2 separate regions of the Homo sapiens genome follow, and region 1 is linked to region 2. The links come from fine-mapping of genetic effects on gene expression. A gene starts in region 2. The other region holds a variant in brackets. All regions are shown on one strand. Distances are from middle to middle.

Region 1 (5,000 bases), 36 kb after region 2:
AACCTCCTCCGCCTCCCGGGTTCAAGCGATTCTCCTGCCTCAGCCTCCTGAGTAGCTGGGACTACAGGCGTGTGCCACCACGCCCGGCTAACTTTTTGTATTTTTAGTAGAGACGGGGTTTCGCCATGTTAGCCAGGATGGTCTCAATCTCCTGACCTCGAGATCCGCCCGCCTCGGCCTCCCAAAGTGCTGGGATTACAGGCGTGAGCCACGGCGCCCAGCCCAGGTTCAATTTTTTTGGCAAGAACCCAACAGAGGTGTTGCTATGTGTGTCTTCCTCATGACTCACATCGGAGGTACCTGATGTTTGCCCTTCTGATTTTTATCACGTCGACATTGATCAGGCCAGCCTAGGCACTGCTGGCGGGTCCCTCCATCACAATGATCTCATCAAGATGTTTCCTAATGATTTTGGCCACTAGCGAGGACTGTTGCCTGGATTTTTTATTTTGTCAGGGCTTTTAAAGTGATGACTTTGAATTTACGGATTTCTCCTGCGTTCATTCGCTGTGACTCTTCTCTAAAGAACTTTCCAGGCCAGGCGCGGTAGCTCACGCTTGTAATCCCAACACTTTGGGAGGCCGAGGCGGGCAGATCACAAGGTCAAGAGATCGAGACCATCCTGGCCAACATGGTGAAACCCCCATCTCTACTAAAAATACAAAAATTAGCCAGGCGTGGTGGCGCATGCCTGTAGTCCCAGCTACTCGGAAGGCTGAGGCAGGAGAATCGCTTGAACCCGGGAGGCGGAGGTTGCAGTGAGCTGAGATCATGCCACTACACTCCAGCCTGGCGAGAGCGACACTCCGTCTCAAAAAAAAAAAAAAAAGAAATAACTTTCCTTCATCAACCATTTGGTTTCCACTACAGGCAATCCATACAGAAATGGCAGGATAGAGCCTGGTGCCAAGATCGCGCCACTGCACTCAGCCTGGACAGCAGACCAAGACTCTGTCTCGAGACAAAAAAAAAAAAAAACCAGCAGTAAGAATCAGAAGCAGGCAGGGCTACTCGGGAGGCTGAGACAGGAGAATCGCTTGATCCAGGGAGCTGGAGGTTGCAGTGGGCTGAGATCGCGCCACTGCACTCCAGCCTGGTGACAGAGCAAGGCACTGTCTAAAAAAAAAAAAAAAAACGGTGGCTCACGCCTGTAATCCCAGCACTTTGGGAGGCCGAGGCGGGTGGATCACAAGGTCAGGAGATCAAGACCATCCTGGCTAATACGGTGAAACCCCGTCTCTACTAAAAATACAAAAAATTAGCCAGGCGTGGTGGCGGGCGCCCATAGTCCCAGCTACTTGGGAGGCTGAGGCAGGAGAATGGCGTGAACCCGGGAGGCGGAGCTTGCAGTGAGCCGAGATCGCGCCACTGCACTCCAGCCTGGGCGACAGAGCAAGACTCCGTCTCAAAAAATAAAAAGGAATCAGAAGTAAGGCTGAGTTTGGTGCTGCACACCTGTAATCCCAGCATTTTGGGAGGCCAAGGCACGCAGATCCCTCATCCCAAAATAATGACACCTTGTCTCCACAGAAAATTTTAAAATTAGCCAGGTGTGGTGGTGCACGCCTGTGGTCCCAGCTACTCAGGAGGCTGAGGTGGGAGCCTCATGAGCCCAGGAGATGGAGGTTGCAGTGAGCTGTGATCATACCACTGCACTCCAGCCTGGGTAACAGAGAGAGATCTTGTCTCAAAAAAACTAAAAAAAAAAAATTTTTAAGACTCAGATTAAAGGCTGACAGGCAAATTCAAAAAGATCTAAGCAAGCTGCCTCACATCAGGCCTGGTGTGTTGTAGGCCTTGAGAAATTAGTGGTTTCTCTCTCCTCGTTCTCACTTCCCCATGGGGGATTGTCTCTTCACTGTACCTGTCTTTTTTTTTTTTTTTTTTTTTTGAGACGGAGTCTCACTCTGTCATCTAGGCTGGAGTGCAGTGGAACGATCTTGGCTCACTGCAACCTGTACCTCCCTGGTGCAAGTGATTCTCCTGCCTCAGTCTCCTGAGTAGCTGGGACTACAGGCACATGCCACCACGCCCAGCTAAGTTTTGTACTTTTAGTAGGGATGGGGTTTCGCCATGTTGGCTAGGCTGGTCTCGAACTCCTGACCAGCCACCCTGTCTTTGAGTTGGCACCATGAGGCCAGTCCACTCTGAGTTGAATCCTCAAGAGTGTTGAACTTGTGGGCTAATTTGGAAGAAACATTAACCCTGATGAGACATTGCTGTTGGGTCAC[GAGCCC/C]ATTTCTCACTGACTGCCCCGAAGACTGCCCCAGCTCAGGCCCCAGGATGAGAAAGGGGATCTGAGGCTGCAGCTCACCCTGCTGATGCTGGAGCTCCCCGAGGACGATGTACAGGGAGCCCACCTGGGCGTGGAAGGGCTCCACCAACTTGGTACAGACAAGAACCTGGTGCTGATCGGATCCGTGCTGAGCCATCAGTGTTACTCTGGACTGAATCATGTCATAGAGGCACAACCTGGAAGGCAGAAGAAATGCAATAATTTCCATCCATACGTAGAATCACCACCACGCTCAAAAGGTTTGCATGGCCAAGAAATCTATAGAAAAGTGTTCAGCCTCAGTCTCATCACAGAAATGCAAATTGCAGCAACAAACCAGAAAAAAATGTTTCAGTCTACACTGTAGAATATGAAGGAATTCCTTTTAATTTTCATCTCCTTGCCTTCAATTTTCTTAATGGCATATTTTGATAAGCAGAAGCTTTTAATTTTGTTGATGATCAGTTTATTCATTTTTTTCTTTTTCTTTTTTCTTTTTTTTTTTTTTTTTTTGAGATGGAGTCTCGCTTTGTTGCCCAGGCTGGAGTGCAATGGAGCAATCTCGGCTCACTGCAACCTCCGCCTCCTGGGTTCAAGCAATTCTTGTGCCTCAGCCTCCCGAGTAGCTGGGATTACAGGTGCCTGCCACCAGGCCTGGCTAATTTTTGTATTTTTAGTAGAGAAGGGGTTTTACCATATTGTCCAGGCTGGTCTCCAACTCCTGACCTCAAGGGATCCACCCACCTCAGCCTCCCAAAGTACTGGGATTACAGGCATGAGCCACCACACCTGATCATTTTTTTCTTTTATGACTTTTGCTTTCTATGTCTTGTCTAAGAAATCTTTTTCTTCCTTTCTTTTTTTTTTTTTTCTGTATCCCAGGCTGCAGCCTTGACCTTCCAGGCTGCTCAAGCAATCCTCCCATCTCAGCCTCCTGAGTAGCTGGGACTATAGGTACTTGCCATCACACGTGGCTAATATTTTAATTTTTTGTACAGACAGGGTTTTGCTATGTTGTCCACACTGGTCTCGAACTCCTGGGCTCACGTGATCCACCTGCCTCAGCCTCCCAAAGTGCTGGGATTACACTCATGAGCCACTGTGCCTGGCCATCTTTTTTTTTTCAATATGGGCTACAAATGCTATAAATAGAAAAAAAAAAAAGAAATCTTTGCCTACTCAAAGTTGTAAAGATATTCTGCTGTTTACTTGAGACATTTCAGTCTTAGCTTGTAATCTATGACACAGTGTAAATTTTTTTTTGTATGTTGTGAAGTAAAGATCAAGATGTTTTCCCCTACCATAAGAATATCTAGCTGGGCGTGGTGGCTCATGCTGGTAATCCCAGCACTTTGGGAGGCCAAGGCAGATGGATCACTTGAGTCCAAGAGTTTGAGACCAACCTGGGCAACATGTTGAAACCCTGTCTCTACTAAAAATATAAAAAAAATTAGCCAGGCATGGTGGCACGCAGCTGTGGTCCCAGATACTTGGGAGGCCAAGACGGGAGGATCACTGGAGCCCAAGAGGCAGAGGCTGCAGTGAGCCGAGATCGTACCACTGCACTCCAGTCTGGGCAACAGAGCAAGACTCCGTCTCAAAAAAAAAAAAATCTAGGTTGGGCATGGTGGCTCACATCTGTAATCCCAGCACTTTGGGAGGCTGAGGCAAGAGGATTGCTTGAGCCCAGGTGTTAGAGACCAGCCTGGGCAATACAGCGAGATGCCGTCTCTATAATTTTTTTTTTTTTTTAATTAGCCAGGTACAGTGGTGCACGCCTGTGGTCTCAGCTACTTGGGAGGCTGAGGGGTCAAGGCTGTTGTGAGCCATGATCATGTCACTTGCACTTCAGCCTGGGCGACACAGTGTCAATATCCAGTAGTTCCACTTGTTGAAAGGACTATGCTTTCCCTACTGAATTATCTTGATGTCTTTATTGAAAATCAATAAAGCCAGGCACGATGGCTCACGCCTGTAATCCCAGCACTTTGGTAGGCTGAGGCAGACAGATCACAAGGTCAAGAGATGGAGACCATCCTGGCCAACATGGTGAAATCCCATCTCTACTTAAAAAAATACAAAAATTAGCTGGGTGTGGTGGGGCACGCCTGTAATCCCACCTACTTGGGAGGCTGAGACAGGAGAATCGCTTGAACCAGGGAGTTGGAGGTTGCAGTGAGCCAAGCTCACGCCACTGCACTCCAGCCTGGCGACAGAGCAAGACTCCATCTCAATTTAAAAAAACAAAAAAGGCCAGGTGCGGTGGCTCACATCTGTAATCCCAGCACTTTGGGAGGCCTAGGCAGGCAGATCACGAGGTCAGGAGATCGAGACCATCCTGGCTAACACGGTGAAACCCCATCTCTACAAAAACAAAAAAAAAACAAAAAAAAAAATTAGCCGGGCGTGGTGGCAGGTGCCTGTAGTCCCAGCTACTTGGGAGGCTGAGGCAGGAGAATGGCGTGAACCTGGGAGGCAGAACTTGCAGTGAGCTGAGATCGCGCCACTGCACTCCAGCCTGGGCAACAGAGCAAGGCTCTGTCTCAAAAAAAGAAAAAAAGAAAAGAAAATCAATAAAGAATTGGCTAAGTAGGCCGGGCGTGGTGGCTCACGCCTGTAATCCCAGCACTTTGGGGGGCCGAGGCGGGTGGATTACAAGGTCAGGAGTTCGAGACCAGCCTGGCCAAGATGGTGAAACACCGTTTCTACTAAAAAATAAAAAAAA
Region 2 (5,511 bases):
CAGGGTGTTCCTGCCTGCCGCCTGGCAGCCCTTATCAGAGGAGCGGGGCCTGATTTGATCCAGCATGAGAAGATCACGCCAGGAAGTCAGCTCTTGTTTTTCTTGCAGTAAATCAGTTAGCCCTTAATCTCCGGGGCGTGTGAGGGCCCCCTGCAGTGCTCATTTCCTTCCTGGAGGGCTTCTGAAGAGGGGAGGAAGCTCGAGTGTTCCAGACCTCAGACTCGCTGCCCTCCGCCCAGGGCACCTCCCCCTGCACAGCTCAGGGGCCTCACCCGGCTGCTCTCTGTCTGGAGTCTGGACACCTCTCCCCAGGGCCCCACTTCCAATGACTGCCACCTCCCAGGGAGGGGCCAAGCTCAAAGGTGAAGCAGGCGGGCTCAGTGGCTGATGCCTGTAATCCCAGCACTTTGGGAGGCTGAGGTGGGCGAATCACCTGAGGTCAGGAGTTCGAGACCAGCCTGGCCAACGTGGTGAAACCCTGTCTCTACTAAAAATACAAAAAATTAGTCGCGCGTGGTGGCGGGCGCCTGTAATCCCAGCTACTCGGGAGGCTGAGACAGGAGAATCACTTGAACCTGGGAGGCAGGGGTTGCAGTGAGCCGAGATGGCGCCACTGCACTCCAGCCTGGGAGACAGAGCGAGACTCAGTCTCAAAAAAAAAAGAAAGAAAAGAAAAAGGCGAGTCAGGGAGGCCAGGGGTGAGGCTGGCGTTGGCCCCCGTAGTCATTCACACAAACGGCTCCTTTCTGAAGACAGCTGATTGCAGGTGTGCAATGAGTGGCTAGAAGACAAGTGTCACCAGGAATAAAGTGGGAGCAGGCTGGGGCAGAGGCTGAGTGGCCAGTCATCCCTGGTGCCATCTCACTCAAGACACGGGCTGGGAGCCAAGGACACTGGAGACCTCTTTGTTTCCTCATTGCTGTCAGGGGCTGCCACTGCCCTCCCCACCCCTACTGCCCCTGTCAGCTCCTCCACCTCTAGGAATGGGGGTGTCCTGCATCCCCTCTCCACGGCCGAGTTCAGGGACTTCCCATGAAATTCAGCCAAAAAGGGCGCAGGACTTTTCTATCCCATGGGGGCCTGAGGCCAGTATCAGGCGTCGGTCCCTGGTCTCCCCCGTCTGCTGGGATCTTTCTCTCCTGCCAGGCTGTGCTTTGTCCTCAGCGAGGCCTGCCAGGATGTCCAGGTGATGTCACCCAGTCAGTCTGTTCCATCCCCTGGCTCCCCCTCAAGCCCTCCTTCCACTAAAACCACGGGGGTTTCAGGAATGACCTGGAAAGCGACGCCACCCCGCAGAAGGGGCCTGTTACGCTGGGCCAGTGAAATGAGCGCCTGGAAAGGGGGGTGCCATCGCCTCTTTCTTGAAGACGCTCAGGGCCACCACAGAAGGAAAAGGCAGCAGCCCTGGTACCCAGTGTGAGGAAAAGACCAATAAGCTGGCATCACTGTCTGCCACTCAATCTGACTTCATAAAAGCCACCAGGGGCCATTTCTGGGTGGGGGAAGAGGCAGGTAGGAAAAGCCAAGTGCATCAGGCTCCCGGGCCTCAGCCAGAGCCCAGGCTTACTGGCGCCTGAAGCCAGCCCTGGTGCTGCTGCACTGTGCACACTTTATAAAATGGGGCCAGGCGTGGTGGCTCATGCCTGTGATCCCAGCATTTTGGGAGGCCGAGGCGGGTGGATCACTTGAGGTCAGGAGTTCGAGACCAGCCTGGCCAACATGGTGAAGCCCCTTCTCTGCTAAAAATACAAAAATTTTCTGGGCGTGGTGACGGGCACCTGTAATCCCAGCTACTCAGGAGGCTGAGGCAGGAGAATCGCTTGAACCCGGGAGGTAGAGGTTGCAGTGAGCCGAGATCATGCCATTGCACTCCAGCCTGGGTGACAGAGCGAGACTTTGTCTCTTAAAAAAAAAAAAAATGGACCTTGTGCCAGTTGTCTGGAGTGAACGTCCCCTGACTGCCCCATCATGTCAGTGGAGAACAGAGAGTCAGGCCCTGGGCTGGCAGGACACCCCCTCCTCTCCTGGGGGATTGAGAGCTGTGGGTGGGGGCCTGCCTGGCAGCAGGTCCTCTGAGCTGGCTGGAGGTGTTTATTAATCCTGAGCTCCGGGGCTGGGGCCTCTCCGCTGAGCCTGCACCTGCATGTGCACGTCTGTCTCCAGCCCTGTCTGTCCTGGCCCAACTCCTTCCCTATCTGGGTGTGATCGCCGCTGCGCTCCCCTAGGCATGTGGGTGTAACAAGTCCAAACCTTCTGTGGGAGTCGGGCAGGCTCGGCCCCGCCCTCAGGGCTGTGCCCTTTCCTCCCAGACTGGTTGTGCAGGAGGAGGCATGAGTGTGGCCGTTGTGGGTGCATGCGCGTCAGGCCTGGGACCCGGCCGCCCGCCCGCTGCCTCACCTGCAAGGAGGGGCCTCCCAGAAACTCCCTTCCCCAGTGCCCAGCCGCCCCACCTCGCCAGACTTAGCTGACCAGCCAGTGAGGACGCCCGCTGCCTCCCACCTGCCCTCCTGCCGTCTTTCGCCAGCCAAGCCCAGCCTGAGCCAGCACTTGCCTTTACGACCATGTTCAAGGGGCTGAGCAAAGGCTCCCAGGGGAAGGGGTCCCCCAAGGGCTCCCCCGCCAAGGGGTCCCCCAAAGGCTCCCCCAGCAGGCACAGCCGGTAAGTGGGACTGGGGGATGGGGAGCCGGGGAACTGGGGTGGGGGTGGTGCCAGGCCCAGGTCCTTGAGCCACCTGGCGGCGGCGGCGGCCCAGAGCCCAGGACCAGCCCCGTGCTGGCATTTGGTGTCCTGAGGCCAAAGGGCCCAGGGATGGACTCTCTCCCTGCCTTGGGAGCCGCAGGCCCAGGCCGAACTTCAGCCCTGGCAGGAGGCAGGGGATGACCTGGGGCTCCCTACATCCTCTAAGGGGGCCTGAGGGCCACGGATTGAGGCCGCTTCGCGGGAGAAGTGCTGGACAGGAGCCTGCACGGAGGCCCTCCTCTGCCAGAGGCTGGGAGACAGGAGAGCCTGGGAGACAGGAGAGCCTGGGAGACAGGAGAGCCTGGCTGCCTGACTGCAGCTCTGCCCCAAGGCTCTACTTGGCTGGGATGACCCCTGGAGCCTGGGTACAGGGCATGAGGACTGAGGGGACGGGGTGGGATCCCTGGGGTAGGGATGCAGGGGCTGTGCTGCCTCCTGCCTAAGCCACAGCCCTCCCCAGAGTTCTCACCCAGGGCCTTGTTGTATTGAAGAGTTAGGGGTTCATGGCCGGGCGCCGTGGCTCACGCCTATAATCCCCGAACTTCAGGAGGCCAATGCGGGAGGATTCCTTGAGCCCAGGAGCTCGAGACCAGCCTGGACAACATAGGGAGATCTTGTTTCTGTAAAAAAATAAAAATAAAAAATAGCCAGGCATGGTGGCTCGTGCCTATTGCTTGAGCCCAGGAGTTTGAGGCTGCAGTGAGCCATGATCACACCCCTGCGCTCCCGCCTGGGTGACAGACTGAGACTCTGTCTTAAAAAAAAAAAAAAAAAAAATCCTGGCGCAATACCTCACGCCTGCAATCCTACAACTTTGGGAGGCCGAGGCGGGTAGATCACTTGAGCCCGGGAGTTCGAGACCAGCCTGGGCAACATGATGAAATCCCGTCTCTACAAAAAATATACAAAAATTATCTGGATGTAGTGGCGCATGCCTGTAGTCAGAGCTACTTGGGAGGCTGAGGTGAGAGGATCACTTGAGCCCGGGAAGTCGAGGCTGCAGTGAGCCGTGATCACTCCACTGCCCTCTAGCCTGGGTGACAGAGCAAGACCCTGTCTGTTAAAACAAAATAGAGCTGGGGCTTCCTTTTCCAGTGGGTGTGGTGCAGGGGGCACTGGGCCTCCCTTGGACCACCCGGCTCTCTGGAGCCCAGCCTCAGCAATCTGTGGATGGATTGGGCGGTGTTCTTCCCACTCACTGGCTTCAGCTCGTCTGCAGAGGAGGCAGCAGCCCGCCTGGGTCCAGGGTGTCGAGATGACCTCAGGGATGAAAGGCTGGTGTGGGAGTGGGGGTGCCCATTACCCCGATAGGGATCAAGGCACCAACAGACACCGAGGCTGGGTGTCTGGGCGGACGGGAAAGACAGTGGTTAAGACTCTCAGCTAACACTCTCGCTGAGTGACCTGTCCTCCCTGGGGCACCTGAGCCCCACCCAGGGTGGAGTGTGCAGCTCCCGGTGGGAGCAGCCATCCCAGGAGGCGGGACCTGAGGAGGGGCGCCCAGGGCCCAGCACCTGCAGCTCCCACTGTCCAGGCAGGCTCCCCAGCAGTGCGCTCCTGGCCTGGGGCAGCTCCGTCCTCAGGGCCCTGTTGGCTCTCCCCTCACGTGCGATCCACTCGTTTGACATGAACTTACTGAGCACTTACTGTATGCCAGGACTGTTCTAGGCACTGGAGATGTCACTGTAGACAGAACCAACAAGCCCCTGCCTTCAAGGCACTAGCCCTCTAATGGGATAAAAACTAACACGTGCTGGGTGCCGACCCTGCACCAGGCCTGCACTGGACGTTTCAGATGGATAAATTCAATTAATGCTCACAATAGCCCTAAGGCATAGATATTTTTATTAAAATCCCGCTTTACAAGTGAGGAACCTCAGGCACAGAGAGGTTGAGTAACTTGACCAAGGTCAAGTCCATCATCTTTCTGATGGAGAAAGATGAAACCAGGGTGTCTTGGCCACAGAGTTCTTCCAGACTGCTGTGCCTTCACCAGCACTGTCCCTTTGCCTGGGGGGGCCCATCCTTTGACCCAGTTCAAGGCTTCTCCTGCCCCAGCATAATGATCCCCCATAAGGCACTGTGCTCATAAGGCTTGGACCAATCTGCCCTCTTTTAGGTCTGCTTGACCTTGTGACCTCCGCACAGTGAGTGCATGCACACAGCAGGTGCTCTATGGAGGCTGCAGGGCGAATGCACAGAAAAAGCCCTGGGGTGGAAGCAAGGTTTCCCCTCCACCCCTGACCATGTGACTCAGAGCAAGTCAGAGCCCAATCTGGGCTTTGAACCCTCAACTCTGGAGAATGTTAGGGTGCCCAGTAGTCTCTTGCGCCTGCCCCACCTCCCCGGCTCCGACAGTGTGAGGCTCCTCTAGATGGCTACTGAAGCCAGCATGCTGGCAAGGCTCCCTGGGGTGGAGGAGGTATAGGGGAACACAGGGCTGGAGTGCGAGGAGGTGGGGATGGGGGACATGCTGCTGCCTCCCTGCCCCAGCCAGCCCAACTACCCCTCCCAGGGCCCAGCCAGGCTGGCTCAGGTGCTAGTGGCTGAGCCGGTGATTCACTGGCTCGGGGAGGGAAGTGGCAGGTAGCTAGGTGGGGTCGGGAACTCACTGCCAGCACAGCTGGCTAAGGCTGGGACACCGAGGCCGCCTGCCCCCTCCCCAGCACCACACAAACCTGAGACCCTCACCTTTTGACCCCTCATGTGGCGGGGCAGTGCTAACACCCCCAACCAGGACTAGCTCACAGAGCCTTCTGCAGAGAGAGACC

Alleles and levels. Alleles are on the strand shown, and positions count from the first base shown. SD is a standard deviation of normalised expression in the study named.
For the expression in sun-exposed skin of the gene that starts at base 2,454 in region 2, allele C in region 1 goes with a lower level than allele GAGCCC (small effect, 0.19 SD a copy in GTEx).

What was found. PIP is the estimated chance that this variant, and not a neighbour inherited with it, causes the effect.
Region 1: its variant is fine-mapped to the expression of EVPL in sun-exposed skin (GTEx, PIP above 0.99).

The regions. Positions count from the first base shown.
Region 1 is chr17:75,988,938-75,993,937 of GRCh38, reverse strand. It overlaps TEN1 (TEN1 subunit of CST complex), which reads right to left. Exons shown (of 4, transcript NM_001113324.3): 3 at 2,315-2,472. TEN1-CDK3 (TEN1-CDK3 readthrough (NMD candidate)) reads right to left here. Exons shown (of 10, transcript NR_037709.1): 3 at 2,315-2,472. Among named protein-coding and RNA genes, the nearest start is that of CDK3, 9.4 kb to the left of the region's middle. The variant GAGCCC/C (reference allele first, on the strand shown) is at 2,232.
Region 2 is chr17:76,024,249-76,029,759 of GRCh38, reverse strand. EVPL (envoplakin) reads left to right here and starts at 2,454. Exons shown (of 22, transcript NM_001988.4): 1 at 2,454-2,659. The coding sequence starts at 2,562. RefSeq lists an enhancer at 1,985-2,872.